Homo sapiens: one gene and its partners. The protein of the gene in region 2 interacts with the protein of the main gene of each other region in a biochemical or structural test. Each region holds a gene or a part of one and is shown on either strand. Other genes may lie near its edges.

The links.
Region 1: the proteins of CHRD (region 2) and TWSG1 form a complex in vitro, tested with the Homo sapiens proteins (one study listed by BioGRID).
Region 3: of the proteins of CHRD (region 2) and BMP1, one has a biochemical effect on the other in vitro, tested with the Homo sapiens proteins (3 studies listed by BioGRID and IntAct).

Annotation. Positions count from the first base shown.
Region 1 is NC_000018.10:9,337,564-9,345,305, reverse strand, and holds part of TWSG1 (twisted gastrulation protein homolog 1 precursor), read right to left. Parts: intron 2,296-7,742; exon of another isoform or gene 2,273-2,295; intron 1-2,272. UniProt on the Homo sapiens protein: May be involved in dorsoventral axis formation. Seems to antagonize BMP signaling by forming ternary complexes with CHRD and BMPs, thereby preventing BMPs from binding to their receptors.
Region 2 is NC_000003.12:184,375,671-184,383,795, forward strand, and holds the start of CHRD (chordin isoform 1 precursor), read left to right. Parts: upstream 1-4,383; 5' UTR 4,384-4,648; coding exon 4,649-4,796; intron 4,797-5,021; coding exon 5,022-5,125; intron 5,126-5,405; exon of another isoform or gene 5,406-5,460; intron 5,461-5,564; coding exon 5,565-5,694; intron 5,695-5,825; coding exon 5,826-5,954; intron 5,955-6,045; coding exon 6,046-6,145; intron 6,146-6,262; coding exon 6,263-6,350; intron 6,351-6,718; coding exon 6,719-6,860; intron 6,861-6,963; coding exon 6,964-7,104; coding exon of another isoform or gene 7,105-7,185; coding exon 7,186-7,268; exon of another isoform or gene 7,269-7,345; coding exon 7,346-7,493; intron 7,494-7,641; coding exon 7,642-7,748; intron 7,749-7,852; coding exon 7,853-7,972; intron 7,973-8,125. Other genes in the region: THPO (thrombopoietin), read right to left, coding at 218-345, 577-734, 2,405-2,679. UniProt on the Homo sapiens protein: Dorsalizing factor. Key developmental protein that dorsalizes early vertebrate embryonic tissues by binding to ventralizing TGF-beta family bone morphogenetic proteins (BMPs) and sequestering them in latent complexes.
Region 3 is NC_000008.11:22,189,232-22,196,973, reverse strand, and holds part of BMP1 (bone morphogenetic protein 1 isoform 3 precursor), read right to left. Parts: exon of another isoform or gene 7,555-7,742; intron 5,889-7,554; exon of another isoform or gene 5,379-5,888; intron 4,926-5,378; coding exon 4,823-4,925; intron 2,917-4,822; coding exon 2,800-2,916; intron 2,530-2,799; coding exon 2,384-2,529; intron 2,251-2,383; coding exon 2,055-2,250; intron 1,513-2,054; coding exon 1,387-1,512; intron 295-1,386; coding exon 134-294; intron 1-133. UniProt on the Homo sapiens protein: Metalloprotease that plays key roles in regulating the formation of the extracellular matrix (ECM) via processing of various precursor proteins into mature functional enzymes or structural proteins.

The DNA of each region.
Region 1 (7,742 bases), on a different chromosome or scaffold from region 2:
TGGTTTCTTAGATACAACACCAAAAGCACAAGTAACAAAAGAAAAAAACAGAAACATTGGATGTCATTAAAATGTAAAACTTTTGTGATACAAATGATACATAGTAGTTGAAAAGACAACCCACAGAATGAGAGACAATATTTGCAAATAATGTATCTGACAAGGGTCTTGAGCCCAGAATATATAAAGAATTCTTACAACTCAACAATAAAAAGACAAGCCAATTTTAAAATGAGCATAGGTTCTGGGTTGGGCATGGTGGCTCACACCTGTAATTCCAGCGCTTTGAGAGGCCAAGACAGGACGATCACTTGAGACCAGGAGTTCAAGACCAGCCTGGGCAATACAGTGAGACCCCCCATCCCTATAAAGAATTTAAAAATTTTAAAAATTAGCTGAGTGTGGTGGCACATACCTGTAGTCCTAGCTACTCAGGAGGCTGAGGCAGGAGGATCGTGTTGGCCCAGGAGTTCAAGGCTGCAGTGAGCTATGATAGAGCAACTGCACTCCAGTCTGGGCAACAGAATGAGACTCTCGTCTAAAACAAACACACACACACAAAAAAGAGCACTGGTTTTCAATAGGTATTTCCCCAAAGATATACAATAAGCTAACCAGACATGGTGGTGCATGCCTATAGTCCCAGCTACTTGGGAGACTGAGGTGGGAGGATTGCTTGAGTCCAGGAGGTTGAGGTTGCTGTTAGCCGTGATTGCACCACTGCACTCCAGCCTGGGTGACAGAGCAAGATCCTCTCTCAAAAAAAAAAAAAAATACATACATACACACACACACACACACACACACACACACATGCATTCACTAAGCACATAAAAAGATGCTCAACATCATTAGCTATTAGGGAAATGCAAATCATAACCACTCCACAAAGGTGCTACAATAAAAAGGAAAGATAAGTGTTGGTGAGGCTATAGGGAAACTAGAACTCTCATACACAACTGGTAGGAATGTAAAATAGTGCAGCCACTTTAGAATAAACACTTCAGCAGTTCCTCAAAATGTTAAACACAGAGTTGCCATATGGCCCAGCAATTCTACTCCTAGGTATATACAAAAGAAAAATTAAGAGATACATCCAGGGTTGTCTGTAGCAGCTCACACCTGTAACCCCAGAACTTTGTGGGGCCAAGGCAGGAGGATCGTTTGAGGACAAGAGTTCAAGACCAACCTGGGCAACATAATAAGATCCTGTCTCCACACACAAAAAATTTTTTTAATTAGCCAGGTATGGTGGCACACACCTGTAGTGCTAGCTACTTGGGAGGCCAAGGTGAGAGGATCGTTTGAGCCCAGGAGTTCAAGGTTACAGTGAACAATGATTGCACCACTGCCTGTGTGCACAGGCAGTAAACAAACCTGTGTAACACAGTTTATCTCTTAAAAAACAAACAAAGATACATCCACACACTGAAACTTGAATATTCATAGCAGTATTATCTACCATAGCCAAAAATATAAGTAACTCAAATATCCTCCAACCAATAAATGGATAAATAAAATGTGGTATGCCCATTCAGCAGAATATTATTTGACCAAGGAATGAAATACTGAATATGTTACAACACACAGGAACCATGAAAACATTATGCTCAATGAAAGAAGTCAGACACAAAAGACAAGGTATGATTCCATTCATATTAAATGTCCAGAACAAGCATGTAGAGAGAAAGTAAACTGCCTAGGGTTTGTGGGGAGAGAGAATAGGAAATGACTTCTAAAGGGTATGGAGTTCCCTTCTAAAGTAATGAAAATGTTCTGAAATTAGATTGTGGTGATGGTTGCACAAGTCTGTCGATATGCCAAAACCACTCAATTGTACCCTTAAATGGGTAAATTTTATAATATATGAATCATATATCTCAATAAAACTGTTTTTTAAAAAAAATCTAACAGAGAATCCATCTTAGATTTATACTAATAAGAGTTCCAGAAAGAAAAGAGGACACTATACATAATTATATATTATACAAAAATATAGTTATATAAAACGTATATATTATATATGTATGTATGTTAGGACAAGATATATATATATATATATATATATATATATATATATATATATATATATATAACAAAAAACAAAACAGGGCATTTCCTAGTCTTTGGCTCAAAACTGATCCCCAAAAGACTCACAAGATACCAAACAGAATGAATGAAAAGACCAACACTAGACTCAACAGTTTAAATTCCATAATATGAAGGCTAATGAGATGATACTAAAAGTTTCTAGAGAGAATAACAAAGTTACCTATAGAGAATAAGAAACAGACTGGCATCAGACTTCTTATTGGCAATATGGAATGCTATTAGATAATAGAGAAATGTCTCCAAAGTTCTGAGGGAAAAGAATTTAACATAGAATTCTGTATTCAGGCAAACCATCAGTCAGGTGAAAGGTGAGAATAAATACATCTTCAAGACATGCAGGACCCAGAAAGCTTACTTTCCACACAGGCTTTCTTAGGAAGTTACTTGAGGGCATGTTGGGACAAAATAAGGGTTACTGTTAAAAACAACAAGATACGAAATCCAAGAAACACTGGAACCAACTTGGGAAAGTAATGATGGAAAGTCACCATAAGACAGCTTGCATCAGACCTAGATTGCAATCAGTTAAGTCTGGAAACATCAAGACTGAAGGCTCCATTTGGGAGGAAAAATACATTAAGTACTTAAAACAATATAAGGTGCTAATGATTGATGATACAAGGTAAAGAAAGATAATTAGAAACTCAAGAAAAACAAAATCATTCAAGAAGGGAAATGTAATCATAGTACCTATGTGACTACAGTCAACAGTCAACAATATTTATATAATCATTACAATATAAACATGGTTTATTGCCAGTTTTAGAATATACCTGTAAATAAAGCATTAGAAGATTCAAATAGAGTTACAAAACAGAGAAATAAGGTTAGTAATTACCTATAGTGCACTCACGTGCCAGGCATTGCTCTAAATACTTTACACCTAATCCTCACAATACTCGCACAGTATGGTTATTATCCCTGCTTTACAGATGAGGAAATTGAGGCATTGAGAGATTAACTAACTTGCCCAAGGTCATACAACCAGTAAGTGGCAGAACTGGATCCAAATTCAGATAGCCTGGTTCCAGAGTTCATACGCTTAACCATTATACTATGCAGCCTCTCAGAATGTAGATGTTATCAACCTTGACAATATAAAAGTAAAAGTACAGGTAACACTCCGTTCCCCACAGATTTTGATGCAGCCCATCAGAATTCCAAAAGTAGCCCATCAGAATGCCAAAAGTAGAAAATTTCAAGGGCAGTACTCATAAATGCAAGGGAAAAAACTGATTTCTTTGCTTTCTATGATGTTAAACATGGTAGCTTCACATGATCTCCCAAGACTGGAACCCAAACAAACCCTCTCTTCAATTCCCTCAAGAAATGCACTGTTCTTAAAACTCACTTATAGTCTGTCTCATTGCTAAAAAAAAAAAATAATAAAATAAAATAAACTTTAAAAGGAAAGGACTATTAATATTCTCCACTTACATCAGGAATAAAGAGATAGTGTCTCCAGTTGATAGAACAGAATAGAAAACCTTAAATATATTGAAGAAATTGAAAAAATAACCAAGAGATAAACTCAAAACTGTGATACAAGTGTGGCAGGGCAGGAGTGGGAAGGATGACATGATGAGCTATGACCTTATCTGTTATAGCAGAAAGGCAATTTTAGATATATAACATCTAAAACTGATGAATCAAGAAATAGTAGTACAAGCATATTATTTAGGCATATGGCTAAAAATTACTAACAGAAGTAAAAATATAAGAGTTAGATTAAAAGCGGTTTTCCCAGGGTAATAGAATGAGTAGGGAGAATTAGATCAAGAGATTCAATTTTTCACTATGTAGCCTTCTAATAATTTAATAATTTATTACTCTGATGAAAAAAAGAGAACATTTGACACATACTAGTTGGTTTCTTTCTTTAAAACTGCCTAGAACTAGAAGAAAATTTTGAGCTCACCTAGCCAGCCAATTCACTTTACAGTTTATATGTGGCAGAGTGTATTTTCCACAGATGGCCACACCATTATATCCCATCCACATGTTCAGCTTACAACATGACACTGTCACTCCTCCAACAGAGGTGGGGCCTATGTTCCCTCCACTTAAATCCAGGTGGACCTGCAGGAGAGATCATATAGCAGGATCACAGAGACACACACATATATACACAGAGAGAGTGAAAGGGAGAGAGGGAGGGAGATGGGGATAGAGAAGGGAGGAAGGGGAGGAGAAGTCAGGAAGAGACGTATACCTGAAGAATCTTCCCAGCCCAGGTATTAGACTTTATCAGTGAGCCTTCAGATTTTCAATGTCCAATACGTGGCCACTAGTCATATGCAGCTATGCAGCTAATGAAATTGAAATTGAATTAAATTTAAAATCAGATTTTCAGCCATACTAGTCACATTTCAAGTACTTGGTAGCCACGTATGGCTAGATTCTACTGTATTGCACAGGGTAGATGTAGATCTTTTCCATCATCGCAGAAAGCTCTATCTATAGTGCTGTTTCAGATAATTCCACCCCCACCACCTTCAAGCCGCCTTGCTAATGCCACGTGGAACAGAGATGAACTCTTCCGCAGAGCCCTGCTCAGAATGCAAATTCGTGAGCAAAATAAATGCTGTTTCCAGCCACTGGTTTTTGGGGTGGTTTGCCACACAGCCATAGTAAGAGGAACACATGGAAACTAAAGATCAGAATGTGAAATAATCTGCTAGAGTTTGGGAGTCCACAAAACTAGGTGAAGAGTGGAACTAATCACATTTCATTTCAACACTCAATAAATGTTTGTGAATAAACAAACAAGAAAATCCTCAATATTTGAGCCCTAGATCTTTTCTTTTTTTTTTTTTTTTTTTTTTTGAAATGGAGTCTTGCTCTGTCGCCCAGGCTGGAGTGCAGTGGCATGATCTTGGCTCACTGCAAGCTCCGCCTCCTGGGTTCACGCCATTCTCCTGCCTCAGCCTCCCGAGTAGCTGGGACTACAGGCGCCCATCACCACGCCTGGCTAATTTTTCGTATTTTTAGTAGAGACGGGGTTTCACCATGTTAGCCAGGATGGTCTTGATCTCCTGACCTTGTGATCCGCCCGCCTCGGCCTTCTGAAGTGCTGGGATTACAGGCTTGAGCCACCGCGCCCGGCCCAGCCCTAGATCTTTTCTAAATCCAAGTAGTCTACCATCCACCAGGATAGTTGTGTCCACTACTCCAGAAAAAAGTTTGATGTTTCCTGGCTCTGAAGCTACAACGGAATATCAGAAATGTCAGCATCCATGAATTTGTGACTGAAAATACGTCCTAGCTGATTTTGTTTACTAGAATCACCATTTGAGTTAGGTGAAGCTCCATTTGCTTTTCCAGTTTTTTTACACTGATATAGTACTCTTTACATTTTGAAGTATTTTGTTTTTTTACAATTTTTTTTTTTGAGACAGAGTCTTGCTCTGTCGCCCAGGTGGGAGTGCAGTCGCACGATCTCAGCTCACTGCAACCTCCGCCTCCTGGGTTCAAGTGATTCTCCTGCCTCAGCCTCCCAAGTAGCTGGGATTACAAGCATGCACCGCCATGCTCAGCTAATTTTTGTAATTGTAATTTTTTAAATTTTTTTAATGGCCAGGCACGGTGACTCACACCTGTAATCCCAGCACTTGGGAGGCCGAGGTGGCAGATTGCTTGAGCTCAGAAGGTTGAGACCAGCCTTGGCAGATCGCTTGAGCTCAGAAGTTTGAGACCAGCCTTGGCAACATGGCAAAACCCTGTCTCTACCAAAAATACAAAGTAAATTAGCCAGGCATGGTGCCACGTGCCTGTAGTCCCAGCTACACCAGAGGCTGAGATGGGAGGATCGCTGGAGCCTGGGAAGTCAAGGCTGTAGTAAGCTGTAATAGAGCCAAAAAATTTTTAAAGAGTCAAACAAACAAAAAAACCTTTACAAGTATCTACCCATATTAATCAAAAGCTTTCTCTTTTAAATACTCCCTTTAAAAGCAAGGTATTTTAAATAAAGTACAATTTTTTTTTTTTTTGAGACAGGGTCTTGCTCTGTCACCCAGGCTTCAGTGCAGTGGCACAATCATAGCTCACTGCAGCCTCAACCTCCTGGGCTCAAATGATCCTCCTGCCTCAGCCTCCCAAGTAGCTGAGACTACAGGTGTACATGATCATGCCCAGCTAATTTTAAAAAAACTATTTGTTGTAGAGACAGGGTCTCACTGTGATTCCCAGGCTGGTCTGAAACTCCTGGGCTCAAGTGATCCTCCTGCCTCAATCTCTCAAAGTGCTGGGATTACGAGGCATGAGCCACTGTGCATGGCCAAAGTACAATTTTTAATTACTTGAACTAATGCAAGTTATAGAGTTGAAGAGTCAAGAATATAATTTGGAATTTAAGAGAATTTCCATCTAAACATGAATACAGCAAATGTTATGAGACTTTATTGTGAATAATGAATAATGAAGCTACATTGAAACAATCTGGGAGGTACCACAGACTCCTCATCTGACCATAGCACAAAACTGGGCTTCATTTGCAGACACAAAGTTTCCAGCCAACACAAGCCTAAGCAGGCGTGCCTTATTAAGATTTCCACATACAAAATTAGGTGATTAAAGAATTAGTGTTAATTTTTAAACTGTAAAATTGGTCTAATAGCTATGTTGGTAAAGAGTTCTCTTTTAGAGATACATATTAGAATTATCAACAAAACAGTATCAAGGGATTTGCTTGAAATTAAAACAGCTGGGAGTGAATAATGTAGGAGGGTATAGATAAAATAAGAGTAGCCATGAGGTAGTGACTGCAGTAACTACTCATGGATGGTTCATTATATTCTTCTCCTTTTATACCTGAAAATGTCCACAGCGAAAAAGTTAAAAACTGAACAGCAAACACACTTCTCTAGTTAAATGTTTTGGTTTGAAATGCAAAGTTAGGGTTATCAGAGTACGAAATGGGGGCAAGTAGAATTCCAACTATTAGCGAGAAGGACCAAAATGTCAGAAATAAGCACAAAATGCTTCTGATGTATAAAAACAATTGTCACTCTAGCACATATACACAATTACTCTCAAGTGAGGGTTACAGTCATGTTAGCTGACTCATACTTTACATAGAATGCTAATGTGTGTGGCTACTGAATTTCTGAGTGCACAGCCTGCAACTAGAAAGGAAGCTAATCAGGAGTTCAATACGAGCCTGTTAACTTAGCCACATTACTTCCTCTTACTTTTCTCCCCAGAAAAATGAGAGTGGTGGCTACATTAAGAGGCCTGCCTTGATGATTGGAAGAGATATAACTTCGAAGTATCTTGAAAGCAGATTGTCCAATCCCAGCCAACAACTTGCCTGCAACATTGTGGGAGACCCTAAGCCACAGCCACCTGGCTAAACTGCTCCCAGATTCCAGGCCCTCAGAAACTGCATGAAATAATACATGTTTATTGCACTAAGTTGCTATGTTTTGGGGTAATTTGTTACATAGCAATGGACAACTAATACATCATACTTAGGGTAACAATTTATCTATTATTTGACCAGCTAATTTTTTTTCTAAATACATTCATTGAACCTCTTTGCTATGTTAATTAGATTACACAGATTAAATCATCTGAATAGAGTGCTCATCACCTTGTAATGACATGTTTATACAACAGGATATTATACTCAG
Region 2 (8,125 bases):
GCTAGTCCTCCATGAGTACTATCTCTAGACGAGAGCTTTTAAATGCGGGCTGTATTGTGAAGAATAATCCTTGTCAGAGAGTGTGATCAGTAGGTGGGGACAATATGGGAAGAATAGTCATTGGGTCAAGGAGTTAGAGGAAGTGATGGTGTCTTCCTGGGAGTATGGGTGTCTTACCAGTTACGCGGATAAAGGGGATAATGTTGGGAGTTCTCACCAGTCTGCTGTGAAGGACATGGGAGTCACGAAGCAGTTTACTGAGGACTCGGAGGTCACAAGCAGGAGGAGCCGGGCTGGACAGCGTTAGCCTTGCAGTTAGGAGAAGCATGACCACGAGGAGCAATTCTTAGATGAGGAGAGGTGAGGTTGAAAGATGAGGAGGAAATCATTGTCAGCTGGTATTCCAGGAATTCCCATTCAGGACCCAGACCTGAAACCCAGGGAATCCACCCCTCAGACCCCTTATTTTTGGGAGAATGGGTTCCCCCAGCTTCCTGCCCCCTGCAGCGTGTCTCCTTTCTCTCTCCCCTTCTGTCATGTTTCCATATGGCCCTAGCCCCTCAGGTGTGTTCTCACCAGTCAGCTCCATTCTGGCCGGGGTGTCTGGCTGGCGTGGCTCCCTGTTTGGGGCCTCTCCCCTGAATCCTTCCTGGGGCCATGGAGGCGGCTTAGGCTCTTGCACTTCTGGGCAGAGTAGGGTGGGGCAAAGGCGGGCCAAGGGTGAAGAATCTATCCTGAAAGTAGCAAGAAGAGTGAACATTTAACCAAGTTTCTAGGAAGAGACTGCCTGGCAGGGTGAACAGATGCTGGGGAGGGCTTGAGATGCTGACCAGCCTGGAACTGCCAAAGCCCTGAATTCTCTCACATTTTCTTGTGATGAAAGCATATGGTGTGCCGGGTGCAGTGGCTCATGCCTGTAATCCCAGCACTTTGGGAGTCCAAGGCGGGTGGATCACCTGAGGTCAGGAGTTCGCCACCAGCCTCACTAACATGGTGAAACCCCGGCTCTACGAAATACAAAAAAACTAGCAGGGTGTGGTGGTTCATGCCTGTAATCCAAGCTACTTGGGAGGCTGAGACAGGAGAATCGCTTGTACCTGGGAGGCGGAGGTTGTGGTGAGCCGAGATCGCACCATTGCACTCCAGCCTGGGCAATAAGAGTGAAACTCCGTCTCAAAAAAAAAAAAGAAAGAAAGAAAGAAAGAAAGAAAGCAAGAAAGCATATGGTGTCTCCTTTTTGTCAGGACTCCTCAGTGAATCGGACATGGATTTGGTGCCACCTACCCCTGCTGAGAGCAGCAGGACATGATATGTATACACACATATCTTAATTAGCCTTAAATTCTGAGCAACCTTGGTTGTTAGGTCAGAGAAAATCTGGGATGGGGATAGAGAAGGAAAGTATTGTGGCTTCAGCCTGGAGAAGAGAGTGGAAAATGGGATGCAGGGCCTGGGTGAGGAACTGGCAAACGGGCGCAATATGTTGAGGGGTAACTTCTGCGGTGGGGAGTGGGGCTGGGGAGGGGAACTGCACAAAGCTGTAACTGGGACCACTAGAGGTCAGGATTAAAAGGCGGTATGGGAGAAATTAACCTCTATTCTTTCCCTATCTACCCCCACACATAAAGCCACTGGAGCTTTTCTCTGGACTCCAAGTCCTGAAATACTCCATTATCTGAGGCCAAGAGATGGGCTAACAGTTCTGGGACTTCCTTCCTGAGACCAGCTGCCCAGGAACGGGCACCTGCTGGGTGATGCCCACCTTAGGGGCTTACCTTGTCTTAGGCGCCCACTAACATATCTGTCTCATAGCTCACACCTGCCTCCCTGCCCCCTTGGCAGAACCCCTTCCGGTTCCTTCACAGGACCCCCCACATGGCTTCCTCCTCCTTTCACAAGTTGTGCAAAGAGGCTTGCACCTGATTCAATATTGGGATTTCCTGTAGGTCTGTCAACATGAGTGGGCCCTCCTCCCATTACCCTCTCCTTGCGCCCTGGCTTGCCTGGCCCAGCTTCCCCAGCACCAGATTCAGAACCTTAAGCTAACGAGGAATGACCAGCTAAGAATGGGGATTGGGGCTGTGTCCATCTTACTACTGTGTTTGCTAAGCCCTAAGTGCAGCTCCCTCTCTTATTTTCTCCCTGGGCTCATGTCCCCTTTCCTTAGGGCCAGCCAGGGCTGTGCTGTATTCCACCAAGTAAGTGATCAGTCCCTCAGAAACCAGCACCCCACCCCCTACCCCTGCTCTGCCCTGCTCCTCCCATTCTGGGAAGGCTACACTCTTCTCGACAAAGGTCAGTGCCTGTAGGTTCCAGTTTGCCTGCCCCTCCCCCAGCTGGGAGCCCATTTCTCTTTGCTGTCCTTTCTACCCTCACATAACCCCACACCCTGCTGGCCACTCACCGGGTGGAGAAGGGCTCCAGGACCCAAGTGCACAGCAGGCAGCCCTCTGGGGAGCAGATGGGTAGGAAGACATGTGGCGGTGGGGCACAGCCCCTCCACAGCAGCAGGTCATACGCCTGCCTGGGCCACTTCTGCCCAATCAGAGAAGGGAGCCACCAGACACTGGTGAAGGCCCCCGGAAGTGACGCCTTCTCTTCCCTGGAGCCCCTGCCTGGACCAGGGTCCACTCCTCCACCCACACACACCACGGAGAAGATTTGGATAGGGGGATCCATCTTTTCCTGGACATGGGCAACCTGGGACCTGGAGGGGGACAGGAGCAGAAGTTTTTTTCCAGGAGGAATCTGGCAGGACATTTGTGTTGCTGGGGAAGAAGCACAGAGGTCTTGTTTAAGATTGGTGGGGTTTTCACTCCCTGGCTATCCAAATTTCTTTTCCCTGGACATCATACCTGCTGCTGAAATCCAACAGGATGCTTGCTTTCCTGCTTTTCTTTCTGTAATCCCCTAGGGAGTCCTATCTTGTCATTCCCCCTTTCGAAGTGGGAACACGGATATTGCCCACATGAGAGAAATCTCCTGTTATGGGTTGGTGTTATGGGGAAAGGGTTTGGACGGGTTGAGTGGACTGTCAGGTGCGGGGCACATGTATGTGCGCACACGTGCACTGGGTTAAGCCTGAGCTTAGGTGCTCGTCTGCTGGGGTCCAGTGGCTTAGATGGCTACACACACAGACCTCTGTGCCCAGGGCCCTCCTTTGCTTGTTCTGTCTCCGTCTTCCATCTCCTACCGTTCCACATGTGACAAGAGGAATAACCAGGCCCATGTGTCCCTGTCTTAGGAAAGACAGCTGCTGGACCTCCCCCGCAAATACCTCCCTGCTGGCCCCCCTTTTCCTTTGGCCCTGGCTCTAGCTCCTTTGCTTTCTTCCCAGTCCCAGTCTCCCCACAGTCTCTGTCCTCAGGGGCTTCCTGGCCTGACCTTGATCCCATCATCCCCCTGTCCCCCAGAACTTCCTCAGGCTCTCTCCTGTTCCTCCTCCCCAAGGATGGGCATGTCTGCTGAGAAGTGTGGCCTAGATCCTGGAATTTTCCCGTCCAGCCAGACGAGATGTCTCCCAAGATTAGGAAGGAGGGTGCTGGGATAGCTGGGAGGATAGTGGGTGTGTGTGGGAGGGAGAGACAGGAGACAGGGAGGCAGGCATGACCAGGGAACCAAGAGAAAGGAGGCTGGGAGTGGGCTGGAGAGGCAGAGGGTCCCTTGGGTGAAGGAAGGGGGTGAGAAAGCAAGAGGGGACTGTCGAATGCGCCTGAGGATAAGTTACAATGAGAGGGAGATACTGTCACTCCACAGAAGGGGGAATGCTGCCGGTTTCTGGCTAGGTCCCTGTCCTGGGTAACACAAGAATGAGGAGCGACCTCAGAGAGAAGGTAGGGAGGCAGGCTAGGCAGTGAGAGAGGGTGGTGAGGGTTTGGGGGGCGCTGTGGGCCCAGGCAGGGGGAGATCGGCTGATGGACCTTTCCTGTACGTTGTCATCTTTAAAGACAAGTCTTCATCCTTCGGGCGGAACCGGGTCCTCGCTCACAGAGCGGTCCAGGCCTCAGGCCTAGCCTCTGCCCCTCCCTAGCCTGAGGCTCCCTTCCTGGGCTGGACACCGACCTCCTGGTCCAGCCGCCCTGTGGCCGCCAGCAGCGGGGGGCTCCGGGCCCGCCTCTCCTCCCCCTCTTCGCGCCCCCTGGTCCCTCCCCTCCCCCTCCCCCGCTCCCCCTTCCCCTCCCGCCCCTCCCTCCTCCCCTGCCCGGTCCCAGCCCCTCCCTCCCCTCCCCCACCCGCGATCCGGGCCGCTGCTGCTGGGTCGGACCCCCCGGGCTCAGCCCGGCCCCTCGCCGAGCTGCCGCCGCCGCCCCGTTTGCTGAGGAGGAGGCCCCCGGCCGGGGCGTCGGGCGCGGGGCATAAAACGGGCCGGAGCCGGCGCCCGGGGCAGTAGAGCCGCGTACGGCCCGGGTCAGCGCCCGCCCGCCCGCGCTCCTCCCGGCCGCTCCTCCCGCCCCGCCCGGCCCGGCGCCGACTCTGCGGCCGCCCGACGAGCCCCTCGCGGCACTGCCCCGGCCCCGGCCCCGGCCCCGGCCCCCTCCCGCCGCACCGCCCCCGGCCCGGCCCTCCGCCCTCCGCACTCCCGCCTCCCTCCCTCCGCCCGCTCCCGCGCCCTCCTCCCTCCCTCCTCCCCAGCTGTCCCGTTCGCGTCATGCCGAGCCTCCCGGCCCCGCCGGCCCCGCTGCTGCTCCTCGGGCTGCTGCTGCTCGGCTCCCGGCCGGCCCGCGGCGCCGGCCCAGAGCCCCCCGTGCTGCCCATCCGTTCTGAGAAGGAGCCGCTGCCCGTTCGGGGAGCGGCAGGTAGGTGGGCGCCCGGGGGAGGCGCGGGCGGGGAGTCGGGCTCGGGGCGAGTCAGCGCCAGCCCGGAGGGGGCGCGGGGCGCAGGTGGCTCGGCGCGGCGGGCGGCCCGGAGGGTGGGCGGGGGCAGAAGGGCGCGGTGCCTGGGACCCGGGACCCGCGGGCAGCCCCCGGGGCGGCACACGGCGCGAGCTGGGCAGCGGCCTCCAGCCAAGCCCGTCCCCGCAGGCTGCACCTTCGGCGGGAAGGTCTATGCCTTGGACGAGACGTGGCACCCGGACCTAGGGGAGCCATTCGGGGTGATGCGCTGCGTGCTGTGCGCCTGCGAGGCGGTGAGTGCACCCCGCGGCCGGCCCGGGCCCTGGCGGGTGGGGAGCGCCGGGTCGCGCGGGCGTCGGAGTGGACTCGGAGCTGCTGAGAAGGAGCCCAGTCGGCAGATGTTGGGGATATTTTTCTGGTGGAGGAAGGGGAATCAGCCCCTCCAATTCTTAGGTGCTGTTACTGATCGCCCACTCTGTGTGAGGCTCTGTGCCAACTCCGTTTCGTTCCCTGCTCATCTAACTCTCATGGCAGCCTTGCTAGATAGAGAGTATTATTATCCCCATTTTCCAGACAGGGACCTTGAGGCCCAGAGAGATGAAGTAGCTTGTCTAGGGTCACGCAGCTTGTAAGTGGCAGAGCTGGCTGACTCTGCGGGACATCCTTGCCTGGGGGGGTCTCATCAGTTGGCATCTTGCACTCACTTGGGTTTCCCGCCTTTTCCGGGAGCAGCCTCAGTGGGGTCGCCGTACCAGGGGCCCTGGCAGGGTCAGCTGCAAGAACATCAAACCAGAGTGCCCAACCCCGGCCTGTGGGCAGCCGCGCCAGCTGCCGGGACACTGCTGCCAGACCTGCCCCCAGGGTAAGTCTTGCTCCGCCCTGCGGGGAGGGAGGCAGGGCCACGATACTAGGTCCCGGGCCACTTGGATGGGGCGTCGGACTGGCCTTTCCCATGGCCAGCTGAAGCCCGTGTTCTTACCCCCCCGCCCGCAGAGCGCAGCAGTTCGGAGCGGCAGCCGAGCGGCCTGTCCTTCGAGTATCCGCGGGACCCGGAGCATCGCAGTTATAGCGACCGCGGGGAGCCAGGCGCTGAGGAGCGGGCCCGTGGTGACGGCCACACGGGTAGGGGGCTGGCGAACAGCGGGGTTGTGGTTGAGGCTGGGCCACCAAAGCGGCGTTTGACAGTGCTCAGGCCATCTTCCTCCCGTCCCAGACTTCGTGGCGCTGCTGACAGGGCCGAGGTCGCAGGCGGTGGCACGAGCCCGAGTCTCGCTGCTGCGCTCTAGCCTCCGCTTCTCTATCTCCTACAGGCGGTGAGAAAGGGGAAGGAGCAAGGAGGGGTCAGCTGCCGGGGCCCGGGAGGGAAACTGGGAGAGCTGGGAGGGGCTGCTTTTGGCTCAGTCCGGCCTCACCCGACCTCTCATTCCCAGGCTGGACCGCCCTACCAGGATCCGCTTCTCAGACTCCAATGGCAGTGTCCTGTTTGAGCACCCTGCAGCCCCCACCCAAGATGGCCTGGTGAGATGATGCCATTTATGAGCACTTGCCCAGTCTGGGCACTGTGCCGAGAGCATGCTCTGCATTGCCTCCCGTGGTCCTCACCACAGCCCAGTGGGAGGAAGGCACTGACATTATGATGCCCATTTTACAGAAGGGGGAACTGAGGCTCAGTAGGATAATGTGATTTGTTCAAGGTCACACAGCTAGTAAGTGGTGCAGCCAGGATTGGAACCCAAGCATCTGGCTCCAGCGTTCTTTCTTAAGCTTCCTAGGGCACCCTGGAGGTTCCTTTCCATGTTCCTTTTTCATAAGCCCTGCCTGGGCATCCTAATTGGCCTAGCCTGCACAGTGTCTGAGCGTAGGGCCTTCTTGTCTCTCTGCTCCAGGTCTGTGGGGTGTGGCGGGCAGTGCCTCGGTTGTCTCTGCGGCTCCTTAGGGCAGAACAGCTGCATGTGGCACTTGTGACACTCACTCACCCTTCAGGGGAGGTCTGGGGGCCTCTCATCCGGCACCGGGCCCTGGCTGCAGGTAGGGAGCAAAGAGCCCCGGGCGTGAAGTTCTGAGTCTTCTCTATCACCCAGGAAAGGGGGGGAGGGTTTCTGACGGGCTCTCATCATCGTCCCTTCCCCAGAGACCTTCAGTGCCATCCTGACTCTAGAAGGCCCCCCACAGCAGGGCGTAGGGGGCATCACCCTGCTCACTCTCAGTGACACAGAGGACTCCTTGCATTTTTTGCTGCTCTTCCGAGGGCTGCTGGAACCCAGGAGTGGGGGTAAGTGGGATGGGGGCAAAACACGTGAGAAGGTTAGGGAGAGCACCTGTCTCAGAAAGGCCCACATGTGCGGCCTTGCAGGACTAACCCAGGTTCCCTTGAGGCTCCAGATTCTACACCAGGGGCAGCTACTGCGAGAACTTCAGGCCAATGTCTCAGCCCAGGTGAGTGGGGATCTGGCTCTCGCTGCCACCTGTCTTGGCCTCTTGCTATTGCCCATCACACCCTGCTCTGTCCCCAGGAACCAGGCTTTGCTGAGGTGCTGCCCAACCTGACAGTCCAGGAGATGGACTGGCTGGTGCTGGGGGAGCTGCAGATGGCCCTGGAGTGGGCAGGCAGGCCAGGGCTGCGCATCAGTGGACACATTGCTGCCAGGAAGAGCTGCGACGGTGAGGCGGGGGGGGGGCCTGGTGCGCCGGGCATGCACAACTGAGAGACACAGACAAGTGCCAGGGTGGGTGTGGGAGAGATCCTGTGGACTGGGGGTGTAAGCGGCCATGGGGTAAACCTAGCCTCACCTGTCTTGCCCCTCCGTAGTCCTGCAAAGTGTCCTTTGTGGGGCTGATGCCCTGATCCCAGTCCAGACGGGTGCTGCCGGCTCAGCCAGCCTCACGCTGCTAGGAAATGGCTCCCTGATCTATCAGGTAAGAGCCAGGGGCTGCAGAAGGTGGGGGAGGGGTGGCGTGGGCAGCAGGCCCCAGGCCTTTACTGCCTCTCCACTTTGCCCTCCTCCATCCCTGCCCATCAGGTGCAAGTGGTAGGGACAAGCAGTGAGGTGGTGGCCATGACACTGGAGACCAAGCCTCAGCGGAGGGATCAGCGCACTGTCCTGTGCCACATGGCTGGACTCCAGCCAGGAGGACACACGGTGAGGGCTCCAGGTGGAGCTGGACCCCAGGGCCCAATGCATGGGCTGTGGGAAGCCAGGTTGGATGAGCAGGGATGTTCATTATCATCCACTCACTCATGGGTTCTCCCACTCATTCATTTATTCATTTGACTTTTTTTTTTTTTTTTTTTT
Region 3 (7,742 bases), on a different chromosome or scaffold from region 2:
GGGAGCAGTCTCTCCTCGATATTTGCAGAGTGTTTCTGCCGGGCCCCCTCTCAGAGGACAGGAAGCAGGCACTGAGCTGAATGCCCACGCCTCACAGCTTCCTGCCCCACCTCAGCCCCTGGTGGGCACTTACATCATTGCCCTCTGTCTCAAAGAAGTCAAACTGCAGGGAGATGCGGTACTGGGTGGGGGCCACCAGCTGCCAGATGCAGTTCTTGTTGGGGGGGTACTCCTTGGGCCAGCCCGGGCTGGTGATGGAGCCGTTGAGCTTGGTGAGGAATCCGCCACAAGCAGCTGCGGGGACAAGGAAGGTGGCATCGTCTGCGGGGAGCCCCTGCCATGGGGAAGGGCTGAGATGTGGGCTGGGATGCAGTAAGGAGAAGATGGGGAGCCTGTGGACTCCCCAAGGCTCAGGGACCTGTGTCTGGTCCCTCTGGGGCGGACGGGAGGAGGCAGGGTGGCCTGGGTGTCCTCAGGGGTGGGCCTGTAGGGAGGAGTGGGGGAGCTAAGGGGTCATAAGTGTGGCCATTTCTATCTTCTCTGCAAATGAACAGGCCAAGGTCCTCCAAGAGGGAGTGAGCGGGAATAAGGGGCTCAGGGAAAGCAGTTCAGGGAGGGGCGGTCCTGGGAGGTGCAGGAAAGGGAGCAGCTCGGGGGCACAGCAGGATCGGCCTAGTGAGCTGGAGCCATTAGCCTCGGAGTGCTGTCCCCAGCATCTCGGGACCATGCGTGGAGAGGCGGAAACAGTGTCTGTCCCACAACAGGGGTTTCCCAACCTGTAGATCATAACACCCTGGTGGGTGGTGATATCAGTTAGCAAGTCAAGATGGTCATTTACAAAAAAAACCCGAAAACACCCCAAGAATGAAAAAACAAAACAAACCCAAAGCCAGAATGCGGCCTACGGGGGGACAGTGTGTTCTCGGGGTTGCAATGTGACATGTGTTTCTTATCCATGAGCTATGAAAAGAGTGTTGGGGTATCCATCTAGCTTTTCCAAGAAGGGGTCTGTCCAAGGGCATAAGAAATCTTGGCAGTGACTCAAGCCTGTGATCCCAGCACTTTGGGAGGCCGAGGCAGGAGGAGTACTTGAGGCCAGGAGTTTGAGACAAGCCTCGGCAACAAAGTAAGACCTCATTGCTACAAAAAAAATTTTAAAATTAGCCAGGCAAGGTGATGTGCACCTGTAGTCCCAGCTACTTGGGAGGCTGAGGTGGGAGGATTGCTTGAGCCCAGGAATGGGAGGCTATGGTGAGCTAAGATTGAGCCACTGTACTTCCAGCCTGGGTGACAGAGCAAAAGCCTGTCTAAAAAAAAAAAAAATTCTGGGCAGGTGGGCTGGTGCCAGGGAAAGAACAGGGTCAGAGGCAGTCTGGGGGCACTCACCCTCACAGCGGCGCTTGTCTGGGGCCAGCTCGTACCCGGGGTCACAGCTGCACTTGTAGCTGCCCAGGGTGTTGAGGCACCGCTGCTCACAGCCCCCGCGGTTGGGCCGAGAGCACTCGTCCACCTCTGTGGTGGGAAGGAAAGGGTGTCACAGACTCCAGGCATTCAAGGGAAGAAGCTGGCTGTGAGCCTCACTTGTCCACTCAGCCCCAAGACCCACCCAGCTCCCCGATGGCTGGAACCCCACAGAGCCTTCCTTCAGAGCACATGGACTGGGCTGGTGTCTCTCACGTGCTGTTCCCTGACTAAGGACCCCTCTTTCATTTCTCCTTCAATCCTCATGTGAAGCCTGTGGCGGAGGGACTGTTACTGTGCCCATTTTACAGATGAGAAACTGAGGTTCAGGGAGAATATCCTGCCCAAGGTCACACAGGTAAAAAAAACCTCCAACTGCCTTTTTTCCTCCCTGAATCATACAGCAGGTCCTGCCTCTAATCCACATTGGGGGACCTCTTCTCCCCAGCTAGCCCAGAGCTCCTTAAGGGCACAGCCCTGGGGTCTCACTGGTATCAATATGCCTCCTGGAGTCTCCGTGTTGAATGAGTGAGTGAAGAAGGGATGAAGGTCACGAGGCACCTTGGGGCAGGGGAGAGTAACAGAGGAGGCACCTTTGAAAAAGTTGACGGCAAAGCCCGCTTTGTTAATGGACCCGTCAGAGACGAACTTGAGCCAGAGGCGGCTGGACGTGCTCTTGATGTCATCAGGCTTCTCATAGCCACAGTAGCGCCCGATGAGGGTGCTGCTCTCACTGTGCCCGTCGCGCACCTCCAGATAGTCGTAGGCACAGCTGTCGTGGCGCTCAATCTAGGGGTCGAGGCTTCATCAGTGGAAGGGGCTCTGGCTGCCAGAGACCCACCCCTGGGAGCCCAAAGAGAGGCAGCTGTCCCAGGGAGCAACTGCTGGATTCAAAGGTCAGATCACAGGGCCACTGACCTACCTCAAAGGACTGGAATGTGAGGCCCACGTGGAAGCCCTCAGACACCTGGATCCGCCAGATGCAGACTTTGCTGGGCCGGTAATCGTCTGGGTAGTTGGGCGATTGAATGTGGCCATAGTCCTTTTTCACATCACCCCCGCAGATGGCTGTGGGGACACAGGATGGGGTGGGAAGGGGTGGTGAGTCAGCATGCTTTGCCCTGCTAGGGAGCTCTTTTCCCCACTCCTCCAGTCCCTCCCATGTCCCCCAGCTTTTCAGTTCCCCACCAAACCCCCAGTCCCAGGCAATCCCATCATTCTCTCTGCTTCTTCCCTTGGGAACCCACAATCTTGCCCCTCAGGTGCCAGGAGGGAGTTGTTTTACCATGCCCAGAGACCTCCTATCTGACTCCTCCCGCCCGCCGCCTTCCTCAGTACCTTCGTAGACTGCAAAGAAGCCCTTTCCAACCCAATTGCTGCTGCTGCGGAATTCAACCCAGAGGCGGCTGTCAGTGGAGACGATAGGCTCAGGGAGTTTGGACCCGCAGAAGCGGCCTGCACAGACAGTGTGGATGGAAGAGTGGTGAACCCTGAGGACACCCCCTATAGAGGCCCCACCTCTCCAGGAGGCTTGGGTGCTTGGGCCCTGATCTGTGGCCACCCTACTTCACACATTCCCAAGACTGTATACCCTCTGGTTGGCTTCTGTCTGGTCCAAGGTCCAACTTGGCTTTGGAGAGCCAGAGACCACTTGAGGGATAGGATATGAGTCTATTTCTAGGAGGAAAGGTAGATCTTTATTTTTCATTTTATCTTATTTTATTTTTTTGAGATGGAGTCTCGCTCTGTCACCCAGGCTGGAGTGCAGTGGCACGCTCTTGGCTCACTGCAACCTCTGCCTCCTGGGTTCAAGCAATTCTCCTGCCTCAGCCTCCCAAGTAGCCGGGGCTACAGGCATCTGCCACCACACCCAGCTAATTTTCGTATTTTTAGTAGAGATGAGGTTTTGCCATGTTGGCCAGGCTGGTGTCGAACTCCTGACCTCAGGTGATCCACCCACCTTGGCCTCCCAGAGTTCTGGGATTTCAGGTGTGAGCCACCGTGCCTGGCCAAGGTAGATCTTTATAATGTCCAACTATATATGTGTTCTATTTACCTTTCTAAAGAGCATATTACCATCATTATTTACCTTTTCTTATTTGGTCTCTATGCAAAGAAGAGACCAAATAAGAAATAAAATCAGAAATATAATCAGAAATAAACATGGCTTTCTTTACACATTACAAACTGCCCTCACAGACATGTTTTTATTTGGTCAAATGCAAGGGATGCCCCAGGACCCTAAATAAATCACAGAATCTGGGGACTAGCTCACAAAATGTCCACTTTGAAATAAAAATGAATAAGAATCAACATAAGTGAATGAGGTCGGCCATCTGTGGAATTCTTTGTAGTCAAGAATCAACTAGGAATGAGTTGTGTGTTCCTAATAAGGCCGGTGTTTCCCAACATTCAGCAAGGGACAGAGGGTGCTGGCCCAGGAATGTAAGTTATGAAAAAGAAACTCCCATCTTGGAAAAACACTAACACGTCTACGAGAGGAAGTGTTGTAAGGACAGCTGCTTTGAGTGACCAAAAAGAAATATTTAAATATCGGAAACTGGGGGGAAAATAGAGGTTAGCAATATCCGTCTGGCTGTTTTAGGCATAGGCTGAGGAGAAGAGGTTCTGTTGCCAAAGAGTGGTCCTGAGCTCCTTACGATCACGTCCAGCTAGGAGGAGATTCACACGGCTCCTCGGGCTTGCTGCAATACCCTCTAGGATCACCTGCCTCCCTTTGCCCTAATTCTAGGTTCATTAAAGCACCTTCTGTTCTGTGCTTCTGACCCACTTACTCCCACTGACTCACCTCCTGCCCCCTACCCTCCTCGGGACAAAGTATCCTATGCAGACAAGGTCGGGCCACGGCGCCCAGTGTGCAGCCCTCGGCAGTGAGTTAGGAGATGGGCTGGCAGGTTATGATGACTCTCTTTTGAGCCAGGCTGCACTGTGGGCACTCAAAAACCAGAAGGGCAGATAGAAAAAAATAGTGGATCCTCTGAAAGTGCCCAGATGAGGAAGAGAGCCTGGGGCCATGGGGATGCGCAGAACAGCCTGTCTGTCTCTCTCAGTCAATTCTGATGACTCCTTGCACCCGTAGGGTGACAGCCAACTTCACAGGGAGGCCCAGAAGTCTGGACTGGGTACTCTGAAGTCCAGATTGAGGACAGGACTTGCCTGAAGTCTCGCAGCAAGTGAGTAATGCAGCTATCTGGGACTAATGATGCCAGGACTCCTGGCTCCCATACCAGGTTGTCATCCCTGGCCAGTGTTGGGCCCTGGAGGGGGATGAAGAGTGTGATGAGGGTGGCTCAGAGAGGGAATCAGCATGGAGGGGGCAGGGGGTGGCTGGTGCCGTTACCTCGGAGGGGCGCCTTCCTCCAGAAGCCATCTCGGACCTCCACATAGTCGTACCAGCACAGGCGGCTGCGGTACAGGTCCAGGGACGTGAAGTTCAGGATGATCTAGGGCAACAGGGGAGGAAGAGGGTTAAGCTGTCCCGAACATTGCACCAGCCCTCTGCCAGCCCCATGATGACCACCGCCCGCCTTACGCGAGGCAGGTCCCCCTGGGCGAGAGTTAAGGGGCTCCCAAAAGGAGCTCCTGGCACAGAACCGCCCCTCCTCCACAGTTGTCTGTGTATGGTCAGCTTTCTTCCTAGAAGGCCCAGGAGGGGAAGGAGACGTCACTTTGGGTAGAACCCCTGGCTCCAGCTCTCTTCATAGTCAATTAGATAACACAACCCACAATATCTTCAAGAGGAACTGGTCTCTACAGTGGTAGGAAGGGCCAAGGGCCGCGTGAGGGTACTGGAGGGTCTGAAGTAGCGACGAAGGGTCCCAAGAGGAGAGGCAAGAGGAAAGAAGGGCTGAGTCGCCAATCATCACTTTTTTGTTTGTTTGTTTGTTTTGAGTCAGGGTCTTGCTTTGTCACCCAGGCTGGAGTGCAATGGTACAATCACAGCTCACTGCAGCCTCCACCTCCCAGGCTTAAGCCATCCTCCGATCTGAGCCTCCCAAAGTGCTGGGATTACAGGAGTGCGTCACTGTGCCCGGCCCCATCATCATTTATTGAGTACTGATTCTGGGCAGGGGGACACACTAACTGCTGAAAGGACACCAGATCTGAATCCGTCCCTGTCCTCAAGAAGCTCCAGGCTTAGGGAGGGATGAGACATACGCGTGAGAAAGCTCAGACCCCAGTCACAACAGCCTGGGTGTGAATCTCCACTCTGCATTTCCTGCTGTGAGTCATCAAGCAAACCACGCAACCTCTGAGCCTCTGCTATGTCCTGCGTGCAATGGGGAGAAGAGTCCCTACCCTGACATCACACTTCCAAGGCACAGGCACTGTCTGTCCTGAGCACCTCATTTCAGGCTCCAAGCTCAGGAAACGCTCGCTCGCTACTGGAGGAATGTTACATCTTGGTAAGTACCAATCCTCCTTAGCAGGTGGGCATTTTAACAGGTAGAGAGTTTAATGGCTTCCCTCCACTTCCGGGGGGAAACCACTTCCTCGGTAGGTCCCAGAGTGGGCCCAAAGCCTGCTGTGTATTCAGAGTTCCAACAAGTAGGGATTCCAGGGATGTGTTCACCGTGACCTGCGAGGCCAGTGCAGCGGACACTCGATGGTTTCAGGGGTGTCCTGCTCTGGGAGAGCTGGGTTCTCTGCTAGAGAAGGGGACCGTCTGCCTCCCTTGTACCTTCTTAGAGAGTTAGAGGCAGAGTGGAGGCCAGGATGAAAAAGATTCCAAGGTGGGCACTGGCAGTGGCTGTCTGTAGCCAGCATCAATGCTAGTCGGGGAGGAGCTCCTGGCTCCTGGTCACTCTGACACGGGCCCTATCAGAATACCTGGTGATTCCAATGTCCGCCTAGAGGACCCTTCCCACTTCTTGGCCGCTCAGTTCTGCGACCTCCTCTCTCCACCTCTCTATACCTTCCCGGCCACACACCAACACGTCACGCCGTGCAGGCCGGCTTCATCGAAAATTGTCTGCCCCTCCATAATCTCAGTTTCAAGGGCCCCACTCTCCATTCAGTTTCCAGCCTTTCCGTCAGTTCTCATCACTGCGACTTTCAACCCACTGCACCCAGGGCAATGCCACTGCCGGTCACCCCCATCTACTCTCTCTCCTTACCCAGCTTAGCTCCACAGCCCATCCTTTTTCTTCTATTCTTTTTAAAAATTCATATATGAGTTTAACTATATTTATTTGGGGGACCTTTTATTAATTGTGGTATTCTGTGATATAATTGAGTAAGATCATGTTTTTGAAAAGCACACTACAGGCCAAGCGCGGTAGTTCACTCCTGTAATCCCAACACATTGGGAGGCCAAGGCAGGTGGATCACTTGAGGTCAGGCGTTCAAGACCAGCCTGGCCAACATGGTGAAACCTCATCTCTACTAAAAATACAAAAAAAAATTAGCCAGGTGTGATGGTGGGCATCTGTAATCCTAGCTACTCAGGAGGCTGAGGCAGGAGAATCGCTTGAACCTGGGAGGCAGAGGTTGCAGTGAGCCTAGATCATGCCACTGCACTCCAGCCTGGGTGACAGAGGAAGACTCTGTCTCGAAAAAAATATAAAATAAAATAAAGAAAAGCACACTATATATTACTCTTGGTTATTATTATCATCATCAAAAGTTATTGTTACTATTATAAGTCCTGGCATTTTGAAACTCTGAAGATGCAAGTCCATTCTAGCTCTTGCGAGGGAGTAGATGGCATCTCATTACCAAATGTGGACCAGGCATGGTAGCTCATACCTGTAACTGAGCATTTTGAGAGGCTGAGGCAAGAGGATCGCTTGAGTCCAGGAGTTTGAGACCAGCCTGGGCAACACAGTGAGACCCCCATCTCTAGAAAAATTAAAAAATTAGCCAGCTATGGTGGCATGTGTCTGTAGTTCCAGCTACCAGGAAGGCTGAAGTGGGAGGATCCCCAGAGCCTAGGAGGCTGAGGCTTCAGTGAGCCGGGATTGCACTGGCTCACTGAATGGAAATTTGGTTTTATTATTTATATTATATATTATATAATATATAAGATATGTGTGTGTGTGTGTGTGTGTGTGTGTGTATCTCCATCAATAGAGACCTCAGGGGGCAACTGAATAATTAAATTGAGAGAAATCAAGACGATAGTATTCTAAGCAGCCATAAAAATGACTGAGTGCTGGCATGGAACGGCGACCACAATTCATTGCTGAGTGCAAGGTATGTTGCAAAAGACCATATACGTGTGCATACAATTCCTTTTTGTCTTGTATATATATACATAC